Linked DNA regions of Homo sapiens: region 2 is linked to region 1. The links come from fine-mapping of genetic effects on plasma protein levels. A gene starts in region 1. The other region holds a variant in brackets. All regions are shown on one strand. Distances are from middle to middle. Region 1 holds the start of OLR1 (oxidized low density lipoprotein receptor 1). Region 2 has its middle 9.5 kb from the start of CLEC7A.

What was found. PIP is the posterior inclusion probability: the model's chance that the variant is causal. The UK Biobank Pharma Proteomics Project read protein levels with antibody pairs (Olink). The fine-mapping took linkage between variants from a reference panel, not from the people measured, so its PIPs are less certain.
Region 2: its variant is fine-mapped to the plasma level of the OLR1 protein (UK Biobank, PIP above 0.99).

What each region holds. Positions count from the first base shown.
Region 1 is chr12:10,170,837-10,173,765 of GRCh38, forward strand. OLR1 (oxidized low density lipoprotein receptor 1) reads right to left here and starts at 1,296. Exons shown (of 6, transcript NM_002543.4): 1 at 1,166-1,296. The coding sequence starts at 1,241. It also overlaps a transcript of TMEM52B not described here.
Region 2 is chr12:10,138,284-10,141,212 of GRCh38, forward strand. No RefSeq gene overlaps it. Among named protein-coding and RNA genes, the nearest start is that of CLEC7A, 9.5 kb to the left of the region's middle. The variant C/A (reference allele first, on the strand shown) is at 1,253.

The DNA.
Region 1 (2,929 bases):
ACCCTGTGAAGGAAGGTATGTGTTCCCTTTTTCTATAGATTCTCTTTGTCCTGTGTCCTTGGTAGGCAGAGACCATTAATCCAACTGCTGCCCCTACTAGTGATTTTCCAATCATAAACCAATCCGATTCTTTGCAGTAGGTACCGATCTAACCAAGATTCTGAAAGAAAAATCAATCTCATGATTATTGTAAAATTCAGACCCTCAATATTTACTACACAAATAATGAATGAGTAAAGAAACGAATGACTATTGTTCACTTCTGGTTTTACCTATAAATATCAGCAGTTTTTATAGCAATTTAGTTCATTGGCTCAAATGTTAAATCACTCCATGCTCACACTTATGTTCTCTATTGAGAGAAATTTCTGTTTTGTTTTTGGAAATGTAATTTGGAATTTCTTTATCCAAATTTCTGACAATACTTGTCTCTCTTTCTCTCCTTATATTCTGTTCATTTTCCTCAGAACAGATATAGAATAAAAGGCAATTTACCCAGATTGTCTGTGGAATTGGGATTATGAATTAATTTATAGCTATGCAATTTAATTACTGTATGGGTCAAACAGAACTTACAATTTTTCAAAGCAGTAGTACACAACAAAATGTAACTTATGCTAAACTATACTGAATATCATTTACTTTGCCTGCATAATTCATGAGGTACTTCAGGTTTTTGTAGTGCCTGAAGGACTCTTACAGAAATTATCGTTATATACACCAGATAAATTTGGTTCCCGAGCCCTCCGATGTATAGAATTCTGGATAAATGGGAGTTTGTGGTACAGTCCTAGCTCTACCACTTATTAGCTCCGTGAAACTGGATGATGTTGTTAGTCCTCCTGATGCCCAGTTAGCTCTCTGTAAAAGGGAGATAGTAATAGTACCAATCTCAAAATGTTATTGCGAAGATTCTGAGAAATAATACTCTGAAAGTGAATAACATATAGAATAACCTGTAGTAAATACTCAGTATAAATTGTTATAAATAAGTTGTCATCATCATCATCATTATAGCCTTCTTGTTTTTCTTTTAAGTAAATGGTATTAATTCTATTTTCCCATACTTGGGTGTTTAGCTTTCTAATCCCATTCTTCGGTGAATTTACATTTTGGGGCTAACACTGGGATTCTTTCCCTGTACACATTTTCCCATCCCTAGTACCTTTAGCTTTTTTTCCATTTGACTTCTCATCAGGCTGGTCCTTCACAGTCTGGATCTTTAGGTCATCAAAAGTCATTTCCAAATTCAAGCTAAGAATGAGAGAGTGAAGCAGTCACGAACTTCAACAAACTAAAAATATGTGAGCTTCTGCAGAAGTATTTAAATAGCTACTGTTATCTAATAGAAGAATGACTCAATCATTGGTAGGAGGAAGGAGAGGCTTTGCTTCATATTGGGAAGTTCGCTGACGCAAATTCTTGAGTTATGTGTATTGCAGGTGGAGAAAGTGGTGATTCTGAAGGTGTTTCAGGATATTTCGCTAAGTAATTTATGAAAGGGAAAACTATTTTTCATGAGCATCAGAGGAGAGATATTGTACCCACTCTTCAGAGACAGAAACTGAAATTCAAAGAGAGTAAGTCACACTACATTTGTAAAAAATGTGCCAGAATTATGGGCCAAAATATTTGATTCCAATGTTTGTTTGCTAATTTCATTAGCAGACTGTTTCTATATGGTGTCTTTTACGAATCAGATATATTCTCTTTTGATTTTCACTGTTTTATCTGGCAATGGATCTAAGAATTTTGGGGTGAATCACATATGGCTCCCATTTCCAGCGATGGTGTGTCCTGGGTGATTTTAGAATTTATCTGGGGCTACTAGTTCATGCAGTGCCAGTGTAACGTAGCAGCAGAGAGCACTTTGAATGCAGAAAGAGCTAGTTTCAGTACTTTCCTTTAGTCTACAATCTTGGGAAATCTTAATACTTTGAATCTATGTCTTTGTCTGGAAATTAGGGATAATGTCTACCTGATAACATTGTTATAGGAATTCAAATGACATGTCTGGAAATTAGGGATAATGTCTACCTGATAACATTGTTATAGGAATTCAAATGACATGCTGGGTAAAAATAATAAGCTTTTTTACACTAGGTTTGTGAAAAATGTCACGTTGCTATAGGAATTCAAATGACACGCTGGTTAAAAATGACAAGCTTTGTACTTGGAGCATAATAAGAAGCCAATAAATAATAATTATTAGTATAGTACTAATATTCAGCACAGTTGAATTACCCATCAAATAATGTATTTCAGTAAAATCCATGATTGACTCATGTCACAAAGACGCTTACATGAGAGACCCATAAGTATGTCTATATGTATTTACTGATAGAATACTTTTCTATTTTCCCTTGACAACCTCCTAACCAGATATATATCTATTAGAGATGTCTTCTGAAGGAAGTATTTATAAGCAAAATGATATGATATCTGGCATTTACTTTAAATTACTCCAGGAAAAAAAAGTGCAAAGAAAAGAATACACAAAGGAAGAATGGAAAAATAAATACATAAATAAAACATATAGGAAACTATTAGGAAAAATTACCAATATTGACAGCCTAATTAGGATTCCATTTCCCTCCTCCTCCCTGTTTCCTATATTCCTTTTATTATGTGCAGAGTATTTGAGAACAAATTGAAAAAGTTGGCCAGGTGCAGTGGCTCATGCCTGTAATCTCAGCACTTTGGGAAGCTGAGGGGGGGGGTGGATCACTGAGGTCAGGAGTTCGAGACCAGCCTGGCCAACCTGTTGAAACCCTGTCACCACTAAAAATACAAAAGTTAGCTGGGCCTGGTTGCAAGCCTATAATCCCAGCTATTTGGGAGGTGGAAAATGAAAATGCTTTTCATTTTCAGTGAGCTGAGATTGTGCCACTGTACTCCAGCCTGGGCAACAGAGCGAGACTCCCTTTAA
Region 2 (2,929 bases), 33 kb before region 1:
CTCTTTTTTTAAAAAAGTGTTATTTCTTCTCCTCCCTCCTTTTCTTCTGACCATTTCAATACGATATTACACTTACTTCTTTTTCAAGAGTACAATCAGAGAAAAATTCAATTAAATGAATTTTAGAATTAATCCTGAAACCAAGTTTTGGTATTTTTAAACTTATCATTTACTTGAATTTTGAATTGTCTTTTTTCGGAGGGATGGAATCTCACTCTTCTGCCCAGGCTGGAGTGCAGTGGCGCCATCTTGGCTCACCACAAACTCTGCCTCCCGGGTTCAAGCGATTCTCCTTCGTCAGCCTCCCTAGTAGCTGGGAAAAGGAGTCCTGGGGTTCAGTGAGATAAAATGGAAGAAGCAAGAACAAGGCAGTTGACCAAGGACACTGAGTCCCAAATTGGCCATTTTCATCTTGACTGCAGGAGATAGTTTCAGGAGACTCTTGAGCAATGGCATGGAGGTAAAATCTACCCTCGAAATAGACAGTTCCTGTCGTGGGTACAAATGGAGAAACCTTGGAAGAGAAGAAAAAGCATCTCCAAATGTGGGAGTCAAGAAAAAAAATGGCATAGGAAGCAAAATTCAGCTGTGTATGTTTATTTGTTTGCTTTAGGTTACCTGTGGGTCATCCCTCTTTATTTTACCCATAGCGGCTCTGTGTTCCATTGCATTCACTTTTGTTACTTTATTGGACATCCATGTTTCAGTTCTGTATCCTATAACTCAGCATCATCTTTAGTAGAAAAATACAGCAGAATGTGATGCAGGACAGGCCAAACAGGAAGGTCTCTGGACTGTCCCAATATTGATTCAACCAGAGCATCTCTGATGTTGCTTTTTTGATAGGTGGAAATTTTATATACAATTTCATTTAGAAAAAAAGCAATTGAGCAATGAAAATATTTGGAAGCTAGTCACCTGACAAATTCCATTCACTTTTTAAAAGAGGGGTAACAGGCCGGGCACAGTGGCTCACACCTGTAATCCCAGCACTTTCGGAGGCCGAGGCGGGCAGATCACTTGAGGCCAGGTGTTCAAGACCAGCCTGGCCAACATGGCAAAACCCCATCTCTACTAAAAATACAAAAATTAGCAGGGCATGGTGGTACAGGCCCGTAATCCCAGCTGCTCGGGAGGTTGAAGCATGAATCCTTTGAATCCGGGAGGCAGAGGAGGCTGCAGTGAGCTGAGATCCTGACACTACACTCCAGCCTGGGCAACAGAGTAAGACTCTGTCTAAAAAAGCAAACAA[C/A]AAAAAAAAAAGGTGGACACAGTGGCTCACACCTATAATCTAAGCACTTTGGGAAGTCTAGGTGGGTGGATAACCTGAGGTCAGGAGTTCGAGACCAGCCTGGCCAACATGGTAAAACCCCATCTCTACTGAAAATACAAAAATTAGCCAGGAATGGTGGCACGCCCCTGTAATCCCAGCTACTCGGGAGGCTGAGGTGAGAGAATTGCTTGAACACGGGAGGCAGAGATTGCACAATTGCACTCCAGCCTGGGCAACAGAGCGAGACCTCACCTCGAAACAAAATAAATAAATAAATAAATAAAAGAAACAGCTCAATATAGGTGAATTAAATTACATAAGAAGGAAAAAACTTCAAGTTACTTGTAGAGCTTGGAATTTCAGAGTCTACGTTCTACCCAGTAAATGCAGCATGTGGCATTGCTGCTTCTGACTCTGTCACTGATGGACTGTATGACTTTAGATATATTGTTTAATTTTCTATGCTTGCTTCTTCACCAGTAAAATGATAATGGGTCTTAAATCTCTGTTGGGATCCTTGTATGGCAAATAAGGTAAGTACAGAAAAACTGATAAAAATAGATTCCTTGTGGTGTTTGAGCTCAGCTAAGCCAGCATGAGTTAACCAAAATGATGTGGCAAAATCAGCAGGCATGAATGAGGTGACGGTGCCATCTGCTGCTTCGTTTTAGGAATTTCAAGGTAAGTTAGAGGAATTTAATCTATTTTATTCATTTGCAAGTAAAACTGAAAAATTTCTGCAGGCTAGACCTGTCTCATAATAAAAATGGCACTTTCATTCTGCTAAAAGGCATCTATGGTTCTTCATTCCTAAGGAATTATCATCATTAGGAGTTAGCTTCTATTAAGATCACCTGTTAGAGTTCAATAATTACCATGTACATTTATTTTTAATTTTAAATTTCTGCCACCATCAGTTCCTAGAAAGAAGGGAACATATCTTGCTCAGTACCAACTCCCAGTGCCTAGAGTGATGCACTGACTACATTAAATGGATGAATAAGATCATATAGCTAGCTATTTTTAATTTGTTTATTTTCTTCCTCCATACCACACTGTAGGCACCATGAGAACAGGTTCTAAGTATATTCATTACTGTCAACCCTGTTAGCACTAAAGAAAGAAGGTATTCACTAGAGCGTTGATAAATAAATGAATTAATTAATGAATAAACCAAAAATGAGAAAAAAACAATTCTAATCCATATATCTTTGTAAAAATAAGAGTGAAGGGGAAATCAAAATATCTGAAGTTGTTATTTTTTATCTAACTTACTGAAGTATATATTCAGCCTTTTAAAAATTACACAGCTGGTCAGGTGCAGTGCCTAACACCTGTAATCCCAGCACTTTGGGTGGCCCATGTGGGTTGATTGCTTGAGGCCAGGAGTTCGAGACCAGCCTGGCCAACATGGTGAAACCCTATCTCTACTAAAAATACAGAAATTAGCTGACATGGTGGTACATGCCTGTAGTCCCAGCTACTCGGGAAGCTGAGGCACAAGAATAGCTGGAACCCAGGAGGCGGAGGTTTCAGTGAACCAAGATCGTGCCACTGCATTCCAGCCTGGGCAACAGAGCAAGACCTTGTCTCAAAAAAAAAAAAAAGTACATAGTAGATATCCTGTAGCATTTTCAAAATATAACAAAGTAATAA